3 separate regions of the Homo sapiens genome follow, and all the other regions are linked to region 1. Evidence: fine-mapped expression QTL. A gene starts in region 1. Each other region holds a variant in brackets. All regions are shown on one strand. Distances are from middle to middle. Region 1 holds the start of NADSYN1 (NAD synthetase 1). Region 2 has its middle 21 kb from the start of KRTAP5-7. Region 3 holds the start of KRTAP5-7 (keratin associated protein 5-7).

The links. PIP is the estimated chance that this variant, and not a neighbour inherited with it, causes the effect. A credible set is the group of variants that fine-mapping cannot tell apart.
Region 2: its variant is the best candidate, but not a certain one, in a credible set for the expression of NADSYN1 in thyroid (GTEx, PIP 0.86).
Region 3: its variant is the best candidate, but not a certain one, in a credible set for the expression of NADSYN1 in whole blood (TOPMed, PIP 0.56).

What each region holds. Positions count from the first base shown.
Region 1 is chr11:71,449,176-71,456,938 of GRCh38, forward strand. NADSYN1 (NAD synthetase 1) reads left to right here and starts at 4,028. Exons shown (of 21, transcript NM_018161.5): 1 at 4,028-4,206; 2 at 5,935-5,995. The coding sequence starts at 4,122. It overlaps DHCR7-DT (DHCR7 divergent transcript), which reads left to right. Exons shown (of 2, transcript NR_186309.1): 2 at 2,515-2,982. RefSeq lists enhancers at 2,697-2,746, 2,867-2,946, 4,184-4,685, 4,686-5,185 and a silencer at 3,757-4,126.
Region 2 is chr11:71,502,941-71,509,612 of GRCh38, forward strand. It overlaps the pseudogene S100A11P3. Among named protein-coding and RNA genes, the nearest start is that of KRTAP5-7, 21 kb to the right of the region's middle. RefSeq lists an enhancer at 2,431-3,021. The variant C/T (reference allele first, on the strand shown) is at 2,963.
Region 3 is chr11:71,522,830-71,530,592 of GRCh38, forward strand. KRTAP5-7 (keratin associated protein 5-7) reads left to right here and starts at 4,438. Exons shown (of 1, transcript NM_001012503.2): 1 at 4,438-5,840. The coding sequence starts at 4,472. The coding sequence ends at 4,969. RefSeq lists enhancers at 4,326-4,827, 4,828-5,327. The variant A/G (reference allele first, on the strand shown) is at 4,257.

The DNA of each region.
Region 1 (7,763 bases):
TCTGGTTGCCACGTCTCTGTGGCCCTCAGAGAGACATCATGTTTTCTTTTTTCCCTGCACCTTTTTGTTTTGAAAAATGTTCAGCATACAAACAAGTTGAACGTAAAGTGAGCACGCAGATTCCTAGGTTCAGCAGGGGTGAGCAGCTGGCCACGTTTCATTTCTCTCCCTCTGTGTTTATATATGTGTATTTTTCTTTTTTCCTCCCCACTCAGCCCCCACCATTAGCTGCAGATACCGTGATACCCCCCTCCCAAATACTTCGGTATCCAACTCCTTAAGAACAAGAACCTCCTATATTACCAAAATACAATGACCACATCAGTTCAATGCTGTTATCTATTTTCCATCTCCAGTTTCCCGCGGTTGTCCCAATAATGCCCTTTACAGCCCTTTTGTTATTGTTGTTTTGTTTTGCTTTGTTAAGACGGGGGTCTCTGTCACACAGGCTGGAGTGTAGTGGCACGATCACAGCTCACTGCAGCCTTGAACTGCTGGGCTCAAGCGATTCTCTTCCCTCACCCTCCTGAGTAGCTGGGACTACAAGAGCACACCACCACACGCTATTTTTTTTTTGGTAGAGATGGGTGGGGGGGGGGGTCTCACTATGTTCCCCAAGCTGGTCTCGAACTCCTGGGCTCAAGCGATCCACCCACTGTGGCCTCCTACAGTGCTGGGACTACAGGTGTGAAGCTCTGCCCTACAGCCCTTTTTTAAACCCCAGGATCTAATCAGGGAGCCACACTGTGCATTCAGGCTATGCACTTTTTTTGGCAGGATAATATACTACATAGAGCATGTTTTATCTTGTTAGAAGGCTGTCAACCTGAAATAACCAAACAGGTCAGAATTTAGCTTAAAGAGAGTTTATTTAAGTGTATAAAGTTTGAGGACAGGCTGCCTGGGAAGCACAGATTTTAAAGAATGGAAATCAGTATTTTGAACTGTAGATGTTTGGGATCATTTATGTAGACAAATTTTAGGGAAGTTTAACAGAATTTTAACATCTTTTTATGCATAAAGTTATAATCTGACCAGCTGAGGTGGTCTTTTTTAGGTGGAAGGTATATTTAACATTTTACACTGAAGATGTAGGAGTCTGGTCTAAGTACGGGATAATAAGAGACAATCTATAATAAAGATCAGTAATTAAAAGGGGAGCAGGCCTGGTCTGTGGTCTCTCCTAGTCATTTATAAAACATGAATGATAAAGAAAAACAGCCTATAATCTAAAAGACAAAATTACAAACATGCTATGTGACCCAGTTTCTAGGACTTAACTTCCCTCTTGACATAATAAATTTATTTATTTTTATTTATTTATTTAAAGACAGGATCTTGCTCTGTTGCCCAAGTTGACCTAATAAATTTCAAGAGTCCTAAAATTTTCTTTTTTAAGACAACATATCACTGTGCTCCATGATTGATAGTGGGGCTCCGTGGTTTCTGCCAGAAGTCTCCATTTTTCCTTTTGTTATTAATGAGTAATTGGTGCAGTGATACTTTGAGACTGTAAATATGCTGTTCCCAAATGACCTTTCACCCAGTGAACTAGCATTTAATGAGGAATCTTGCCTGAATCCCTTATTTCTTGGGACAAAGTGTTAATTTTCTAATTTTATCATTCCCTCAACATTTATTAATAAATTATTTATTAGCAAGCATTCTTCTGTAGGGATTTCCTCTTTGATTTATTTTTTATCAGTATGCCCTAATGGATTTAGCTGACCGAGTTATGATCCTTACTGTATTGTCCTGTATTTAGCTAACGGGAGCCCCTTCAAATTGGCTTCTTTTTTCATATGACATGTATCTACCATCCTTTGAGTACTTACTTATTTTCTGGGACAACCAGATGTTCAAGGATCCTCCCCTTCTCTGCCCAGGCCTGGCATCAGCCATTGTTGGCAGGAGATAATTTGAGCAGATCGTGTGGATTTCAGAAGCATGAAAACTACTGTGAGGATTAAATAAGTTAGCATGTATAACATTCTGGTGCTTTTGTGGAGTTTCCAAATTGTCATGAACAAGCACTACTTTATAGACAGGAAAAAAAGTGATTCAAAATGTGAAAACGGGTATATGTACATAAGGTAAAAATAAAATCCTAAGCCCCCCATTGACCAAAGGGACCTTCTCCTGACCAAGGGGACACCAGAAAAACCTCAACACTGAATTCCCAGACATGATGGGATGGGAGGTCAGATGCGCCTGGTAATAGCCCCCTGTTTCAGAGTTTGGACACCACAACTGGCCGGCATTCATGTTAAAACAGAGATCGTAAGACTGACAGAACGGACTCTGTGGCAATAAGATACCAAATTATAAACAGGACCCAAAGCCATGCTAGGCGAGGGTAAGTCAGGCAACCCACACTTAGAGAATAAACTATATTCTAAGAGCCACAAGGCTTTCTGTTTCTCTATTAGCCAAACACACACTAGCCTTGGGATAGGGAATATTAAAACAATTGCAGCTCCACTAGGTGCCAACTAACTGACTCTGTTTCACCAGCCATAGCAGCTGTGATTGGACAAGAGACTGATTTCAGTGACTTTCTCCTAATAAGAGACCACCGACCAGCTGACCATGCCGACCAGCTGACCCGTTAATAGAGAGAGATGATGCACCTGCATGCCTTTGTGTCCTGAAAAGACGTTTTGCCATAAAGGCCCTAATTGTAAGATGTGTAAATGTTAAGTCTCCACCCCAAAGTGAACATGGGTCATATATTACATGCTTTGCTCAATAAGAGGGCATGTGTCAGGACCACCTTCATGAATATTCATAGCTCCTCCTGTTACCTGTTGAATATGTATGTTTAGCCAATCCCTTCAGCATAGCGCTCCTGCCCCAACCCCTCCTCCTTGGACGTGCCTGTCTCTGGCCTTGGCTGGAGACAGATTCCCAGCCTCAGACAGATGGCCGCCACCTTGCAGGCTACGACCGTTTACAAGAAATAAAGCCTTCTCTTTTTCCAAATTTGTGAATTGTGTGTTTTTAAACTAACATGAATGACAGAAGGAAGGATGGCCTCTTCAAGCAACGATGATGAGGCAGTTATTTATATGGGGGAAAAATGGATTCTACCGTGGGTGGACTAAAGAGGAAATGTGAAAAAATAAAAAGTGAGAAACCGCTGGTAGTGAATCGGTGCAAGCGCCCTGGAGAAGAGACTTGGCAATATTTAGTAAAGTCAAACAGCACGAACCCTACTACTCTGCAAAGCTGCTGCAGGAACTGGCGGAACGAGGTCACGAAGGAAACCTTGCCGGAAAGGAAATTGCAGCAGTGCCTGTGTGCGTGCGTCTGTTGGCAAAACGCTGCTAATAACGTCAATGCCCATCCGCTATTGAATAAACCTGCTTTACTGCCACTATGGAATACCAAACTGCAGAAAAATAATTAAAAGAACGTATCTCATATTACAGGGGAAAAAATCAAGTTGCAGAAGCACATTCAAGTGCAGTTCCTGTAGTTTCAGAAAAGGCAAACAGTGCGCTACCTGAGCTACTTACACACGTGGTACAGGAGTGAAAGGGGCAGGAGAGGGTTCCCAAGAATTCAGCGCCATCCGCCCAGGGTGGCGGGATTCCCAGCACGGAGAATCGATTGCTATCGTCTGCTGTCCCGCGGGCACGATGGAGCGCTCCTACCGTACTCTCCACTTTTGGTGTATTTGGAACGTTTCATGCCGTATTAAAATAAAACATGGCTAAGCTGGATGTGGGGTGGCGGTGTGGGATAAAATAGAGGGGTGCTGCAGCTGGGCGGTGAGCCCCCTGCACCTGTGCACCTGAACGGGTTTGCCCGCAAGGGCCGGGCCGGGGCCGGGGCCTGGGACGTGGGTGGAGCCGGGGCGGGGGCGGGGCCCTTCGCGGTGCCGTGAACGCTGAGGCCACCTCGCTGCGCAGGCGCGGTCGTGAGCTCCTCAGACGGGGCGGGGCGATCCGTAGGCAGGGCCTGACGCCGCAGTCCTCCTTGGCCGGAGCCTCAACGGATGGGCGGGGAGGGGGCGGGGCCGGGCAACCCGGAAGGTCCGGCGTCCCAGCCGCCTACCTCGCTGGGACCCTGGTCTTGCTGTCCCCCGCTGGCCTCCTGCCCAAGCGACTGCGGCCAGGATGGGCCGGAAGGTGACCGTGGCCACCTGCGCACTCAACCAGTGGGCCCTGGACTTCGAGGGCAATTTGCAAAGAATTTTAAAGAGTGAGTCTGGGGCGGCGGGGGCACCGGTTTGGGGTGGCGCACGGGCACCGTGGCTGGGCCCAGGCTTGCCCGTGGCGTGCTCACAGCCTTGCCCTGGGAAACTCTCGGCCCTGGGCATGGGATCAGGTGAGATAATGGGCAATGACCCCGCCAGTGGTACGTGCTCAGGTCCTCGTCGGGAAGTGAGTGTTTATAGTTCCCGGGGACGAGCGATATACAAGGCACGGTTAAGAAAAGTCTGGCGGCTTAGGCGGGAGGCCTGGGGATGGACCCGTGTTCTGATATCTCTGGGGTCCCGTGGTTGGGACTGAGCTGCCCATTCTCGGAGATATCTAAGTTGAACAGAATGGCTGCGCACTGGCGGGGATGGTGTGCAGAGGCCAGAGATTGATGGTCTCTGGTCCCCGTGGGCCTTCCTGGTGGGAGAAGGCGTCCCAGAAAGGGAAGTAGAAAAAGACGCCTGTCATCCCAGCATTTTGGGGGGGCCGGAGGGGGTGGAAGTCACCTGAGGTCAGGAGTTCAAGACCAGCCTGGCCATCATGGTGAAACACCGTCTCTACTAAAAATACAAAAATCAGCCGGGCGTGGTGGCCTCGAAGATAGGGTGTGGTTGTTGAAAGGTCACCATCTAATTTTCGTTCATATGGACGCACCGTGGAGGATGAAAAGTTAAACTATTACACCTGCACCTAAATGGGCAAGCCTGCAGGTGTAGTCAGGTTGCAGCTTGTCTTGCACTGGTCTGCTGACTGCAAGAGCCTTTGCCAGGAACAATAGAAACAGAATGTTTCAAGAGATGGCATCTAATCAGTATGTGCCCTGGATTATTATTATGATTATTATTATTTGACATGGACTGTCACTCTGTTGCCCTGGCTGGAGTGCAGTGGTGTCATCTTGGCTCACTGCAGTCTCTGCCTCCTGGGCTCAAGCGATTCTCCTGCCTCAGCCTCCTGAGTAGCTGGGATTACAGGCGTCTGCCACCATGCATGGCCAATTTCTGTATTTTTAGTAGAGACAAGGTTTCACCATGGTGGCCATGCTGGCCTCGAACTCCTGACCTCAAGTGATCCACCTGCCTTGGCCTCCCAAAGTGCTGGGATTCCAGGCATGAGCCACCGCAGCCAGTGGTTTTTTATTTTTATTTTTTAAATATCAACCTGCTTTCACCTCATTTGCTCAGAGCAAATCTAGTTGAACTGAAGAAGGCTTGGCCAAAACTAAGTTTCCACTCTGCCAGCCTCTCCTCCCTAGGTGCTTGTTGGAAGCTGCTGCCCAAGACCAGTAAGCCGATGGTGCCTGACAGTGGCACCACTGCTGGATCGTAATCCTCTAAGTCCTTTTTCCTCTAGATGGTGTTGGGCATTTCCTTGTTAATAAACTACCAGGGTCTGACTTCTTCCTCTTCCTCCGCCTCCTCCATGGTGCTAAGGGTCAGACCTGCAAGCCCTCCCTGTTTCTCATTTCCTGCAGATATAAGCAGGTATATGCAAGTATAAGCAGGTGCAGGCGTACTCGTGTATACAGGTGTATACAGGTGTATGCTGCCCTCTGCTGCCATGCTGTCAACAGGAAGCCTGACTGCATCCCGTCTGGGAAGGCACAGAGCATTTTTGTTTGTTGTTTGTTTTTTTTTTTATCCTACCTACTGCAGCAGGTTGTTTCATCTGTCTTTGAGTGTATAGGTGCTGAAATTGCTCCATTTTCTTTTTCTCTCTGTACTTACAGGTATTGAAATTGCCAAAAACAGAGGAGCAAGATACAGGCTTGGACCAGAGCTGGAAATATGGTGAGAACAGACACAGACACCCTGGGGTCGTCAGCTAGCGATACCAGCATCAGTTTTCCCCAGCTGAGAAGGCAAGGAAGGAGCAGGGACAGTCCTGAGAGCTGTGGACACGCCACACCCACTGTTGGGCCTGGTTAATGCCATTGAACACCTGAGCAAGGGCAGGCCCAGGGAGGCTGAATAAGTCTAGATTCCCATGTTGAGTAATTAAAAGAACTGACTTTTACCAGATGAAGGCCAGTTTCAAAGTTGGGCTGCTTCTGTGTTACCACTGCCCTTTTGCTGTGGTCTGAATGTTTGCGTCCCCACAAAATTCATATGTTGAAACCTAACCCCCAGATGATGGAATTAAGAGATGAGGCCTTTGGCAGGTGATTGGGTCATGAGGGCATGAGAGTGGAGCCTGCATGAATGGGATTAGTGCTCTTACAAGAGAGGCCCAAAGGAGCTTGTTGGCCCCTTCTACCATGTGAGGACACAGAGAAGGAGACAACCAGTCCTTACCAGATACCAAATCTGCCAGCACCTTGATCGTGGGCTTCCCAGCCTCCAGAACTGTGAGCAATACATTTCTGCTGTTTATTAATTACCCAGTCCAAGGTGTTTTGTTATAGCAGGCTGAAGGACCAAGACATATTCCCAGGTTTTCATTCCGTGATCTCAGAATCTTTCCACAAGCAAGCATAGGTTATCGTTTCTTATATGCCTTTTTGTAAAAATCAGGAAAACTGATTGCTTATTTCCCTTCTTGTCCCTTCAAAAACAAAAACAAAAATGAAAACAAAACAATGAGTAGCCACGTTGTAAGTCTCTTGTAAGCGATAGTCCTTTCTCATTTTGGATGTCAGCTGCCATCTGTGCTCTGCTAGTTTCCCGTTGGTCTTTAGGCCTCTGACCCGTTGTGGGATCTGGAAGTTCCTCTTCAGTCTTTGTCCCCTGCCTTAGTGTGTGTTCTTGCTTCTGGACTTAGAGTAAGCAGGAACTGTCTTCTCTTAGGAGGTTTTGTGTGAGTCCAGAGGCATCTTTCTCTAAGTCCTTCCAAGTTTCTTTCCTTCATTAGATTGATTTCTCTCCTTAGAATACCACCTTCAAATAGGGCTGTTTCTCCCATAATATCCAAGAATGTTTACTTTGTTCTTTAATTTGTCTTCATTTGATTGATTCTTTAAGAAATTCTTCACCTAAGTGCCAAGGGATCTAGGGTTCTGGGCTGTCTGATATCACAAAGCTTCGATCCTCTCCTGGCCCCGTGGCCGGATCTTCTCCTGGGCTGGACTCAAGGCCTGATCGTCTCGTGAGCCTGACCTCTCCTGGGCTGGTCCGGGGGCCTGATCCTCATGTCCTGTCTGCTGCTTGCCCTGGAGGAGCTGCAGTGGTGACAGCCCAGTCCCCCTGGCCTGATGTTGCCCAGATGCTTAGAGTTTACGTCTTCTTTTCTTTCTTCGTCCTAGTCTCTCTCTCCTATAAATGTTACATCCACCTCTCTCTTTCCTCCAAATATGGACCTGTTTCATTTTAAAAGTGGGAGGATGTCTAACTAAAGGCCCCCGGGATGGAATATTTGCATCCAGCAGGGACAGGGGCCCAGCTGAGCAGGTCTCCAAGTAGCTTACAACCTGCTGAGCAGGCTCCTGTGAAATATTCCAACAACTTACAGAGAGGAAACCGAGGCAGGAGAGGAGGGACATCACTTCACTGAGCACACCGCCTCTTGTTCTTACTGGTTAGAGGTCCAGCACCTGATACACAGGGAGGGCCCAGTGGCCCT
Region 2 (6,672 bases), 53 kb after region 1:
GGGGGCACTCAGCAGGTGCTGTCGGGATAGCAGAAAGTGGGGGGCACCCGGCAGGTGCTGTCGGGATAGTAGAGAGTGGGGGGCACTCGGCAGGTGCTGTCAGGCGGAGTGGTCACCACCGTTGTTGTCTTCTCCGTCACTTCCTCCAGAGTCTGTTACCCACGTCACATCGTGGATGCCCCCTGCCCGGATAGGTCTGAGTGCACTGGGGTGGCCGGCACCCCACACCTTCTCAGGGAGCACCCAGCAGGATACCTGAGATTCTCCTTAGGCCTTGGATGGGAGCTGGAGGCTTCTGGCTGCCTCCTGCACCCCAGATGTGTGGCAACGGGGTGGGGAGTGTGTCACCCGAAAGATGATCAGGTGAGGCTGGGACCCTGAAGGCAGCCCCATCCTGTGGAATTACCCTCGGAGGCTCCAAAACTTCCCACCTGCAGGAACTGAGCTCAGGGGCACCAGACCCTGGTCCCCAACCTTCAAGTTATAGGGTGGTGTCCCCCAGTTACAGGGCAGTGTCCCCAGTTACAGGATACTGTCCCTCAGTCATAGGTTAGTATCTTCTGGTTACAGGATAGCATCCCGTCAGTTACAGGGCAGTGTCCCCCCAGTCATAGCATAGTGTATCCCCAAGTTACAGGGTAGTGTCCCCAGTTATAAGGCAATGTTCCCCCATTATAGTGTCCCCAGTTATGAGGTAATGTCTCCCAGTTACAGGGTAATGTCCCCCAGTTATAGGGTGATGTCCCCACAGTTATAGGGTGATGTCCCCACAGTTATAGGGTGATGTCCCCACAGTTACAGGTGAATGTCCCCCCAGTTATAGGGTGATGTCCCCCAGTTATAGGTGAATGTCTCCCCAGTTATAGGGTAAGTCCCCACAGTTATAGGGTGACGTCCATCAGTTATAGGGCAATGTCTCCCCAGTTACTGGGCTGTGTCCCCCAATTACAGGGCAATGTCCCCTCATAGTGTCTCCCAGTTATACAGTATTGTCCCCCCATTATAAGGTAGTATCCCCAGTTACTAGATAGTGTCCCCCAGTAACAGGATAATGTCCCCCAATTGCAGGGCAATGTCCCCCATTATAGTGTCCCCAAGTTATAAGCTGGAGTCCCCCAGTAACAGGATAATAGGATAGTGTTCCCCAGTACAGGGCAGTGTCCCCAGTTACTCACTAGTGTCCCCTAGTAACAGGGCAGTGTCCACCCAGATACAGCCTAGTGTCCCTCAGTTACACAATAGTGTGTCCCCCAGTGGTAGGACAGTCTACTACTGAGTCCTCCTGGCATGAGTCGAGCTGAGATTAGGATAGGGTAATGACCCTTCAGTTTTGGGGAAGGGACCAGAGCTCGGCCAGTGAGAAGCTTCCAGCTCCGTCTGGCCATATCCAGGCTGCTGAGGGTCCTGGGCTCTGTCCTTAAACCTCATCACTGACATGACCCAGCAAACCTCCTCAAGAGGAAAAAGTCCCCTTGGGTCAAACACAGCTTGTGCAGTTCTCGGGGACCTCCTCCTGCCATCCTGGGGATGCTGTGGAGAATGGAGATGCACAGGGGGCTTTGTCCTCTCCTCTGCCTTTTGGAGAAAATATTTCACTCAAGGCAAACGCAGCCTGAGGGCAGCACAGGGGACCCCAAGGCTCACTGCGCATTTCTAGTCGCCCCCAAACGCGTGGGTTTTCCTCCTGTTCTCCTCGTGGGTGCCTTTGCTCATTCTCATCCTCCTGTTCTCATCCAGTCTGCCCAGTCTGACCGGCTCCCAGCAGCATCCGCCCAAAAGTTTCTCCCATGACAGCAGGAAGCAGCCTCAGACAATACATGATGGACAGGCCTGGCTGTGTTCCAATAGAACCCCGAGTCAGTCAGCCCGAGCCTCCCTCTCAGCTGGATACTGTTAATGACAGGGGTACACATTCCCCTCCCCTTTCCAATGTTTTAAAACTCTAGGACAGTGATTCTCAAACACTTTGGTCTCAAAACCCCTAAGAGCATTTGCTTATGTGGCTTTTATCTGTTGATAGTTGCTACCTGAGAAATTAAAACTGAGAAATCTAAAAATAGATTTATTTTAGGAAGTCACTAAAAATAATAAGCCCATTGCATGTTAACATGAAATAGCATATTTTTACAAAAAAATAAATTTTCTAAAAACAAAACATCTAAGTGAGAAGAGTGGCATTGTTGTACTTGTTTTGCAAATCTTTTCAGTGTCCGGTTTATGAGATGACAGCACTTTGGTTTGTTGCCAACCATTCACTTATAAAGAAACCCTTTTCCAATAATTAGCTGGGGCTGGTGCTAGAGCAATACCAGAAGTTCAGCGATGTCTGTAGATTTGTCCAAATGTATGTGAAGAGACTGTGTTTACTCAGTTTTTATGTTTGCAGTTAAATCTTCAATTTGATGAGTTATTTTATCATTGCAAAGTGGCAGTGTCAGGGTTTCCTTTATTGACTTATCCAGCAGGCATTCAGCTATATCAACTCTACATATGAAGTAAGGAGTTGAATTAAGCAGAGTAGTTAATAAAAAGCTTTTTTTTTTCATGTTTTAAAAATGTGACGTTGTCAGGCCTCTGAGCCCAAGCTAAGCCATCATGTCCTCTGTAACCTGCACGTACACATCCAGATGGCCGGTTCCTGCCTTAACTGATGACATTCCACCACAAAAGAAGTGAAAATGGCCTGTTCCTGCCTTAACTGATGACACTATCTTGTGAAATTCCTTCTCCTGGCTCATCCTGGCTCAAAAGCTCCCCTACTGAGCACCTTGTGACCTCCACTCCTGTCTGCCAGAGAACAACCCCCCTTTGACTGTAATTTTCCTTTACCTACCCAAATCTTATAAAACGGCCCCACCCCTATCTCCTTTCGCTGACTCTTTTCAGACTCAGCCCGCCTGCACCCAGGTGAAATAAACAGCCTTGTTGCTCACACAAAGCCTGTTTGGTGGTCTCTTCACAC[C/T]GATGCGAGTGAAAACTGTTTTATTTCTACCCGCAGGCGGGGCCTGCCAGAGGAGGTAGGTGTGCTGGGCTCAGGGGACGTGTGGGCTGTGAGGAGGAGATGGTGACAGGAAGCTGGAAGGAAAGGGGGTGGCTTTGGAGGCCAGGCCGAAGGGGCCCTCAGGTCTGCTTGTAGGGTGGGATAGCCTTGAGGAGGGAGTCATGGCAATGCACAGCCAGGCTGCCAATTTTGAATTAAGAAATTCTTGGAAATCTAGCTGCCTGTTACTGTTGACATCCAGTCTTTTCGTCATGCAGTCAAGGACACTGCGGTCCTTCTGCTTCTTTGTGACGGCAGCCTCTTCTGTGTTCATGAAGCTTAGGAACTCCGTCTTGGAGAGAGCAGTTGTAACCATCCTCTCCAGGATCCTTCTGGAAAACAGCAATCAGGGACTCAATGCACCACTCAGTCTCTGCAGGGCTGGAGATTTTTGCCAGGTTGTAGCTGAGTGAGGCATGGGAGGCTGTACTTGGGAGTGGTGTGGAGACCTCTGGTAAAAAGCTTTTGAAAAGGATGATTCTATTCCATTAGGATTGGCTTATATGAGGGGAAAAATAGGATTGTATATAGTTAAAGAAAAAACAATTCATTGGCCCATGTCAGATCTAACAAATCAAAACACATGGAAGCTGTGGCGTCCTAATCAGGGAAAAGGAGCCAGGGTGGCAGGACCAAGGGAAAGCAAAAAGAGAAAGCAGATAAGCTACAAGTCTGCATTTCTTCACAGTCCAGCACACACAGCCCTCCTGTGCATATAGCTCACAATCTTCCCATGCCCAGGTATCACCAGACCCTCAGCTGATAGAAAAATGCAAGTTAGCTCACTGCAACCTTGGCATTGTAGGTATTGTATGCAGCCCTCTTCAGCACATGGCCCAGGAACCATCCTGTAAAATCCCCTGCAAGCCTTTGTCTCCTTGCAGTCAGCTCCTCTTCTCCTGGCCTGCCCATTGCCTTCTTGCAATGTACTTCCTTCCTTTCTTTAATAAATCTGCCTTTTTTTAAAACCTACAAGTTTCTTGGTAAACTCTTTTACCCCTGTGACACCAGCCTCAGATAGTCGCCATCACCCACCATAGAAGCTACTCCTGGAGAGCTGATTATTTTTAATTTGCAGATAATTTATTCGTGTATTTTTCAAATACGTATTGCGACTCCTCTTCTGGTTCTGATGGAACAGCTCATATTTGAGCTACAGAATCACTGAGAACAAGTAGGAAAGCCAGAAAAAATTAACACAAAACAGCAGTTGAAAGCACTAGAGAGAAACCCAGGTGTCCAGGACAGGAGGTGCCTGGATCCTGGTGAGAAGGGAAATGAATGCATCAGGTGCCAGCGCTCCACTCTCCTCCCGTGGGGCCTCTGCCCATTCGTTAGCGACAGAGAGAACAAGAGCACAAGCAGAAAGCAGCTGAGGCATTGGCAGTTCCTTCCGAAAATCAGACTTTAGGGTGACAAAGGCAGCCAGAGCTTGCAGGGCAAAGCTTCCAGGGAAAAGAAGAGCTCAGAGAAGTGAGTCCAGTGTGCAGCAGCTCCTCTTCCCTTGAAGATTATGAAACTGCCTGGGGAAAGAGGACAAGGAGCTAAGCAAAAAGCATCCATGAAGAGCCTTTAAAGCAAAACAGAGATTATGGAGGTTTTGTAGCTCTGGAAAATAAATATTTAATTTTAGGATTAATAAGAAAGGGCTTGGTAAAAACTTAAGGCTTTCTATTGAAACCCCTCAAGACTATATACTGGGAGAAGTACAGGCCAGAAATAGAGACTCCTTCACAAAGAATAAAGCCTGGCCTCTTATCTTACTGCCTCACTGGATCAATGTGATCTGCTGCTTGTCTAACTGTTTCGCAGAAGGAAAACAAATGGTCTCTGCAAGAAAGTAACATCACTCAAAACCTTTCTCAGTTTTTTATACTCTTTATCTGGTATTCAATAAAAGATCACTAGGAACTCTATAAAAATATACTTAAAATGTAATATAAATCATAATACATACAAAGCTATAAAAATATATTCAAAATATCAAACCCAACATAAGCAGAAGAAGAAAAAAATCCAGATAAGAACAGAAATCAGTGAAATTAGAGACAAAAAATAGAGAAAATAAATGAGACAAAAATCTAGTTCTTTAAAAAAAATCAGTAAAATTAACAAACCTCTTGCTAGACCAACAAAGAAAAAAAAGAGAGGATACAAGGATACAAACTATAAGCTTCAGGAATGGATACCAAGTTTGGGGATATCACTACAGACCCCACAGACATGAACCGGATAATGAGCAAACGGTGCAAGCAACTCTACACATAGAAATTCAACAGCTTATGTGAAGCAGACCAACTCCTCAAAAAGCACAAACTACCAACATTCAGCCAGGACAAAATAGATAATTTGGATAGCTCTATAATTATTAGGGGAATTGAATGTGTAGTTTTAAAATGCCAAAAGAAAGTTGGAATTTTAAATTTTCAGATGCAGAGAATTACCAAATTTTTAAAGACTGAACACCAATTCTACATAATCTCTGGAAAATAGTGGAGAAGAGAACCCTTCCAAATTCATTTTAAGGGGCCAGTATTACCCTGATAGCAAAACCAGACAACGACAATACAAAAAAAGAAATAACCAATGCCCCTCATGAACATAGACACAAAATCTTCAACAAAAGAAAGCAAATAGAATCCAGCAATATATTAAAGAATTACAAACCATGACCAAGTGGAGTTTATTCCAAGCATGTAAGACTAGCTCCACATTTGGAAGTAAATCAATGTGATCCACTGTGCTAACAGGCTGTAGAAGAAAACTCACACAATTGCATCAATTGGGACACAAAGAAAGCATTTGGAAATTTTTACCACCTGTTCATAATTTTTAAAAAACTCAGCAAACTAGGATTAGAGTGTCACTTCATCATCTACAAAAAACCTATAGCCAATTTTAGGCTTAATGGTGATAACTGAATGTTTTCCCCTAACATTTGGAGCAATTACAAGTGTCCACTCTCACCACTCTTCAACATAATGAAGTTCTAGCCAGGGCAATAAGGCAAGAGAACTAGAAGATATACAGATGAGAAATGAAGAAATATTTGCACACACCATAGTAGTCTATGTATAAAATCTCAAGGAATCTACAACAAAAACCCAAGAACTAATAACAGTGAGTTCAGCAAGGTCTGAGGATTTAGATCGACACACAAACATCAATCATTTCTCAACCTTACATCTGATTAGGTGTGAATATCAAAAATATATAAGGAATTCAACCAACTTAACAGCAAGAAAACAATTCAATTAAAAATGAGCAAAGGATCTGAACAGTTCTCAAATGAAGAGATATGAATAGCCAACAGATATATGAAAAATGCTCAACATCTCTAAGAATCAGGAAAATGCAAATTAAAGCCACAATGAGATATAACCTCACACCTGTTGGAATCACTGTTATCAAAAAGACAAAAGATAACAAGTGTTGATGAAGATGTAGATAAAAAGGGAACACTTGTACACTGTTAATGGGAATGTAAATTAGTACAGCTGTTAAAAAAATAGTATGGGGGTTCCTCAAAAACTAAAAATAGAATTACCATATTATCTGGCAATTCCACTTCTGGGTATATATCCAAAGGAACTGACATTGATTTGCTGAAGAGATATATTCACTCCCACATT
Region 3 (7,763 bases), 74 kb after region 1:
TGTTGCCGTATTCTTGGGCGAGTACGCTGGTGACATGTTGCTGTATTCTTGGGCCAGTACGCTGGTGACATGTTGCTGTATTCTTGGGTGAGTACGCTGGTGACATGTTGCTGTATTCTTGGGCGAGTACGCTGGTGACATGTTGCTGTATTCTTGGGTGAGAATGCTGAGGACATGCTGCTGTATTCTTGGGCGAGTACATTGGTGACATGCTGCTGTGTTCTTAGGTGAGTACACTGGTGAAACAATGCCCAATCGCACGGCCAAGAGATTTGAGGAGCAGGGACATCTGGTAAGCAGACTTCAGTTTCTTTTCAGTAATGTGCCCCTCTTATGCTCTCCTCAGGGTTTAGCATGCATCCCTTAAACAAAGAAAGTAGCCTCATATAAGCAATGGTTTTGTGACTAGAGTGCCTCAGTCCATTATTGCTGCTATAAGATAATAATTGACCTGGGTAATTGATAAAGAACAGAAATGTACTTTCTCAGAGTCCTGAAGGCTGGGAAGTCCAAGATCAAGGTGCTGATATCTGGTGTGGGCCTTCTTACTGTGTCTTCACATATTGGAAGGCAGAAGGGCAAGAGAGCATGAATATGTTGTCCTCACATGGCAGAAGAACAGAAAGGGGTGAATGCCCTCTCTCAAGTCCTTCTTGGAGCAGCACTAATTCATTCCAAGTACCTTTTGTTAGGCCCCACCTCCCAACACTCTTGCATTGGGGATGAAGTTTCTAATACATGAATTTTGGGGGACACATGCAGACCATGGCATAAAGGAACCTCTCTCCCCACATGGAGTACAACTGAGCAGGGAACCCAGCTGAGCAGCTGAAGTAAGCAGCCTAAGAGGAGTGAACACTCTGCCTGGGGAAGAGAGAAAACAACAGCAGAGAGACTTGTGAGATTTTCAGAAATAATTGAGTAGGGGAAAAGATTCCCCACAAACAACAAGATGAGGATAGATTATTCTTATTTGGATAGGAAAGGAAAGGATATTGTCTGGGTGCAGTGGCTCACACCTGCAATCCCAGCACTTTGGGAGGCCAAGGTAGGAGGATCACTGGAGGCCAGGAGTTTGAGACCAGCCAGAGCAACATGGCAAGGCCCCATCTCTACAAAAAGTTTAAAAGTTAGCTGGGTATGGTGATACATGCCTATATTCCCAGCTACCTAGGAGGCCAAGGCGGGAAGATTCCTTAAGCCCAGAAGTTTGAAGGTGCAGTAAGCTGTGGTCACGTCACTGCAATCCAGCCCAGGTGACAGAGGAAGACTTCATCTAAAAAAAAAAAAGTGATCCCCAGTAATATAGTTTGCATGCTTCCTCCAAATCTTATGTTGGTGGGGCCTGCTGGGAGGTGTTTGGATCATGGGTGTAGATTTTTCATGAATGGTTTAGCACCATCTCCTTGGTGATGAATAAGTTCGAGCAAGATCTGGTTGTTTAAAAATATGTGGCACTGACCAGGCATGGTGGCTCATGCATGTCATCTCAACACTTTGGGAGGCTGAGGTGGGCAGATCACCTGAGGTCAGGAGTTCGAGACCAGCCTGACCAACAGGGAGAAACCCTGTCTCTACTAAAAATACAAAATTAGCCAGGTGTGGTGGTGCATGCCTGTACTCCCAGCTATTCGGGAGGCTGAGGCAGGAGAATCACTTGAACCTGGGAAGCGGAGGTTGCGGTGAGCCGAGATCATGCCATTGTACTCCAGCCTGAGTAACAAGAGCAAAACTCCATCTCAAAAAAAAAATGTGTGGCCTCTGTCCCTCCACCAGCTCTCTCTTTCTCAGCTGTCACCATGTGGCATGCCTGCTCCTGCTTTGCCTTCTACCATGAATAAAAGCTCCCTGAGGGCCTCACCAGAAGCTGAGCAGATGTCGGTGCCATGCTTGTACAACTAGCAGAACCAGGAGCCAATTAAACCTTTTTTATTTATAAATTACCCAGCCTCAGATATTTCTTTATGGCAACACAAAAAATACAGAAAACTGTACCAGGAATGGTATGTTGCTATAAAGTCACCTGAAAATGTGGAGGTGACTTTGGAACTGGGTAATGGCCAGAGATTGGAAGATTTTTGGAGGGCTCAGAAGAAGACAGAAAGATGAGGAAAAGGTGGGAACTCCTTTGAGACTGGTTAAATGGTTGTGTCCAAAATAATTAAAGTGATAAGAACAATGAAGTCCAGCCTGATGAGGTCTCAGATGGAAATGAGGAACTTACTGAAAACTAAAACAAAGATCACTTGTGTTACACCTTGGCAGAGAGCTTGACCATATTGTGCTTCATGCCCTAGGGGGCTCTGAAAATTTCTACTTAGGAGTGATGACTTAGGATATCTAGTGGAAGAAATTTCTAAGCAGCAAACATTCAAGCTGTGGCCTGACTGAATCTAACATCGTATTCTCACATGCAAGAGCACATAAATGAATTAAAGTTGGAATTTATATTTAAAAGGGAATCAAAGTGTAAAAGTTTGGAAACTTTGCAGCATGGCCATGTGGCAGAGAATGAAAAAGCATTATCAGGAGAGGAATCCAAGCAGGCTATAGAGCAACCACCTGCTAGAGATATTAGCATGACTCAAAAAACAAACAAAAAAACCCAAGTGCTAATAGCCAACACAATTGGAAAAGACTTCAAATGCATTTCAAAAGTGTTTGAGACAGCCCCTCTCATCACTGACCTAGAGGTCTAGGAGGACACCATGGTTTCAGGGGCTCACCCCAGGCCCTCACTGCCCTGCATAGCCTTGGAGCACTGCTCCCCACACATAGGCTACTCCAGCTCCAGCCTCAGCTCAAAAGACCCCAAATGTAACTCTGGCTTCAGAGGGTGCAAGCCATAAGCCTTGGTAGCTCCCATGTGGTGTTAAGCCTGTAGGTGCGTAGAATACAAGAGTGAAGGAGGCTTGGGATCCTCTACCTAGATTGCAGAGGATTTATGAGAAAGCCTGGGCACTCAGGCAGAAGCCTGCTGCAGGGGCAGAGCCCGCACAGAGGATATATACTAGGGCAGTGTAGAGGGGAAATGTGGAGTAGGAGGCCCACACAGAGTCCCCACTGGGGCATTGCTTAATTGAGCTGTGGGGAGGAGGACACCATCCTCCAGGCCCCAGAATGGTAGAGCCACTGGCAGCTTACATCTTGAGCATGGAGAAGCTGCAGGCACACAACTCCAACCCATGAGAGCAGCTGCAGGGTGCGAACCTTGCAAAGCCACAAGGGTGGAGTTCCCCAAGGCCTTAGGAGCCCACCCCTCACTCCAGTGTACCCTGGATGTGGGACTGGGAGTCCAAGGACATTATTTTGGAGCTTTAAGATTTAATGGCTGCCCTGCTGGATTTCAGACATGCATGGGGTCTGTAGCCCCTTCCTTTGGGCTGATTTCTCCCTTTTGGAATGGGAATGTTTACCCAATGCCTCCACCCTCATGTATCTTCAAAGTAAATAATGTGTTTTGATTTTCACAAGTTCATTGGTGGAAGGGACTTGGACTTGGGACTTTGGACTTGATGTTGGAATGAGTCAAGACATTGAGAGGACTGTTGGGAAGAGATGATTCTATTCTGCAATGTAAGGACATGAGATTTGAGGGGTCAAGGGGATAATGATACAGTTGGGATGTCCCCTCCAAATCTCTTGTCGAAATGTAATCCCCAGTGTTGAAGGAGGGGCCTGCAAGGAGGTGTTTAGGTCATGGGGGCGGATCCCTCATGACTGGCTTAGCGCCATCTCCTTGGTGATGAGTGTGTTCACTCAGATCTGGTTGTTCGCAAGTGTGTGGCCCCTCCTCACCCCTTGCTCCCACTCTCACGATGTGGTGAGCCTGCTCCTGCTTCACCTTCCACCATGAGGAAAAGCTCCCTGAGGGCCTGCCCAGAAGCTGAGCAGAGGTGGGTGCCATGCTTGTGCAGCCTGCAGAACCATGAGCCATTCTAACCTTTCCTTTATAAATTACCCAGCTTCAAGTATTTCTTTAGAGCAATGCAAAACTGAGAATGGCATGAGTAAAATATAAAGACCATGGATAATTTTGAAATCTAAAAATGTGAAATTAATATTCCTGGGGGAGTCAACACAGGAAAGATGAGAGCACGTGGGCAAAGGCTGTTGCCCATTGGTCACATGTGGTCAGCAGAGAGCAGGTGACCAGCACCCTGGAGCTTTGCGGGAAGCACCAGACAGCCTGGAGCTGAGGTTTCAATTGTAGGGGCCAAAACAAATAGGGAAAAAGACAAATTTAGTAAACAAAG[A/G]AAGTAGATGCTCAACTGAGCCAGGAGGAAGTCACTAGCAAAGAGGAAAAAAAATAGAGCTCTGGAAAAATAGCGTAAACAGTCACAAGGAAGCGACCCTGTATTGTGCCTGACCTCTGGACAGGTATATAAAGAGCCCGGGCTCAGGGGGCTCCACACCTGCACCTCCCTCTCACCTGCTCCTCTACCTGCTCCACCCTCAATCCACCAGAACCATGGGCTGCTGTGGCTGTTCCGAAGGCTGTGGCTCCGGCTGTGGGGGCTGTGGCTCCGGCTGTGGGGGCTGTGGCTCTGGCTGTGGGGGATGTGGCTCCAGCTGCTGTGTGCCCGTCTGCTGCTGCAAGCCCGTGTGCTGCTGTGTGCCAGCCTGTTCCTGCTCCAGCTGTGGCTCCTGTGGGGGCTCCAAGGGAGGCTGTGGCTCCTGTGGGGGCTCCAAGGGGGGCTGTGGCTCTTGTGGGGGTTCTAAGGGGGGCTGTGGTTCTTGTGGCTGCTCCCAGTGCAGCTGCTATAAGCCCTGCTGCTGCTCCTCAGGCTGTGGGTCATCCTGCTGCCAGTCCAGCTGCTGTAAGCCCTGCTGCTGCCAGTCCAGCTGCTGTAAGCCCTGCTGCTGTTCCTCAGGCTGTGGGTCATCCTGCTGCCAGTCCAGTTGCTGCAATCCCTGCTGCTCCCAGTCTAGCTGCTGTGTCCCCGTGTGCTGCCAGTGTAAGATCTGAGGCTCTGGACTCAGGTCTCATGTGAGTCCTGCTAACCCCATTTTCCGAAGCTGTGACCTGTCCTTCATCGTTGAGCCCCAAACCACTGCTCAGGGTCCATTCCTCACTATAAGATGAAGCCATATCTGCCTGCCTTTTCCTAAGGAGAGTCCACCCTAATTAATGTCCATTCCCTCCTAACAAATTCTCTTCCCAAGTCAACTGCAACTGCGGCTGAATCACCCCTCACCCGCTAGCCTTGCCTTTGCTTGTGTATTCAGAGGCCTGAGCTCCTGAACCCACTTGAAGTCCTGTCTTTTCCAGCTGGAGCAGCTGGGCATGAGTGTCCCACCTGCAACAAGGTGGGCGTTTAAGAGGCTTCCTTGGAGTGGCTTTGCCTGTCCAACACTCTGCTTTATCTTAAATGAAAAGTTGCAAACTAATAAAAATACCATGCCGACAAACTGAAACACATATCTTGCTGATTTCTCTGTTGTTCGGGGTCATTACTATGGCTATGGCTATTGTTTTCTTGTTCTTGTTGTGTTTCGGACTGCGTGGGTCTGATGCTGATGTTGCTGGAAGGTGCTAGGATGGGGCTGGCTGTCTCCTCTGCCTCTCATCTCCTTCCTGGCTGACCCCTCTTTTCTCAGAACCCCTCTCTTCCTAGGTCTTTCCAGCTATTGATCTGATGGAGACAGGACTGTTCCTCAGGCCAGGGCCACAGAAGCAGAAGAGGCTGCTGAAAACTCTGGGGAGTTCAGACTTGCCTCCTTTCCCTGGTCCAGGCCTCTGCCATCTTCCTTTGGGAAGTTTTTGTAACCAACTTACTCTGATTGTCTTTGTTGTTACACAGCCTGTTGCCTCTGTAAATAAACACTCCTAGCACCAAGCCAATATTGCTTTTTAAGAATTTTGAAAGGGCCGGGCGTAGTGGCTCACGCCTATAATCCCAGCACTTTGGGAGGCCGAGGCAGGCGGATCACTTGAGGTTAGGAGTTTGCGACCTGACTGGCCAACATGGTGAAACCCTGTCTCTACTAAAAATATAAAAATTAGCTGAGTGTGGTGGCACGTGTCTGTAATCCTGGCTACTTCGGAGGCTGAGGGAGGAGAATGGCTTCAACCTGGGAGGGGGAGGTTGTGATGAGTCGAGGTCGCGCCACTGCACTCCATTCTGGGCGACAGAGCAAGACTCCGTCAAAAAAAAAAAAAGGCAATATTAATAGAGTTGAATTATTTCAAGTTATTTGGAAACACAGCAATTTATTGGTGGGATATGTCCTAAGCATAGAAAGAACACAAAAATAAAATTCCTAAGCTATTTTTAGTAGTCATGGTGGCAGCAGTGGTGTCGTTATTCTGCTGTGAATGCTGTATGGAAAAAGCAAATGCATAATTAGGTTGGTATCAGAACTAGAATTTTTGGTGTGGAACTGATGAGGTTAAGTAAAAACCTTGTCATCCTGAATTTGAATTAGATATATCGATATGAAATCATGATGTTTTTTATCCAAATAAAAATAGTTTCCTCCTCCATTGGAAGACTTAGAAATAATGAGCCATCCTGTAGCAGTGAACACTCCTAGCACCAAGACTGTTTGTTATCTTCAAATGCTATTTATTGTATCTACCTGGAACCTGGCTTCTCTGGTGAATGGGCTGGAAGCGAACAAGACAAATCTAGAACATCTTGTTATCCCAGAAAGCAGAGATGATAACTAAGACTAATGCAGTCACATCAAAAGAACTAAAGAGTCAGCCGGGCAAGGTGGCTCATGCCTGTAATCCCAGCATTTTGGGAGGCTGAGGCGAGTGGATCACTTGAGGTCAGGAGTTCGAGACCAACCTGACCAACATGGTGAAACCCTGTCTCTACTAAATACAAAAAATTAGCCAGGTGTGGTGGTGCATGGCTGCTGAGGCGAGTGGATCACTTGAGGTCAGGAGTTCGAGACCAGCCTGACCAACATGGTGAAACCCTGTCTCTACTAAATACAAAAAATTAGCTGGGTGTGGTGGTGCATGCCTGTAATCCCAGCTACATGGGAGGCTGAGGCAGGAGAACCCTTTGAACCTGGGAGGCAAAGATTGCAGTGAGCTGAGGTGGCGCCATTGCACTCCCGCCTGAGCAGCAAGAACAAAACTCTGTCTCAGAAAAAAGAAAAAAAAAATGGTGAGAGGCAAACCTAGAGAAACTCTCTGTAGACAGACTTGGGACAACCTGAACACCAATTTCTTAAATGGACTGATACACATCAAATATGTTTAAACTAGGAGTGAGTAATCATACACAAAAAATAATAATACAGATCCTATGCAAACTGTAAAACTTAGTTGCCTTTAGAGGATTCTAGGAATCAGTTCATTATTTTAAAGATGACTAAGTAAAGGAAAATAATCAGGCACTTATTCTATCTCTGACAGACAAACTCTATCTTATGGTAACAAAATTAGAGGAAGTATTCCAGTTTATAAATAAAGAAGAAATCATAGAATTAGAAACTCATCATTTTGTAACCCCTAATGAAATAATGGGGCTATCAAATTTACTGCATGCAGCCAAATCAGTGGAAAATTTATAGCCTTAAATGCATATGTTAGAGTAAAAATGAAAAACTTAAGCTCATTTAGCCAAAAACCTATCTATAGGACTGGCAGCATTGCCACGCAGAGCACAGAATGGGGTGATAATTAGGGCTATTTGTAGGCATCCTGGTTCTCCTCTCCTTCTGGGAACAGGTTGGATGGCAGGTAATAGGGTGGCCCTTTCATGAGCCCTCTCTAAGTCAGGTGTGGCCATGTGATTTGCTTG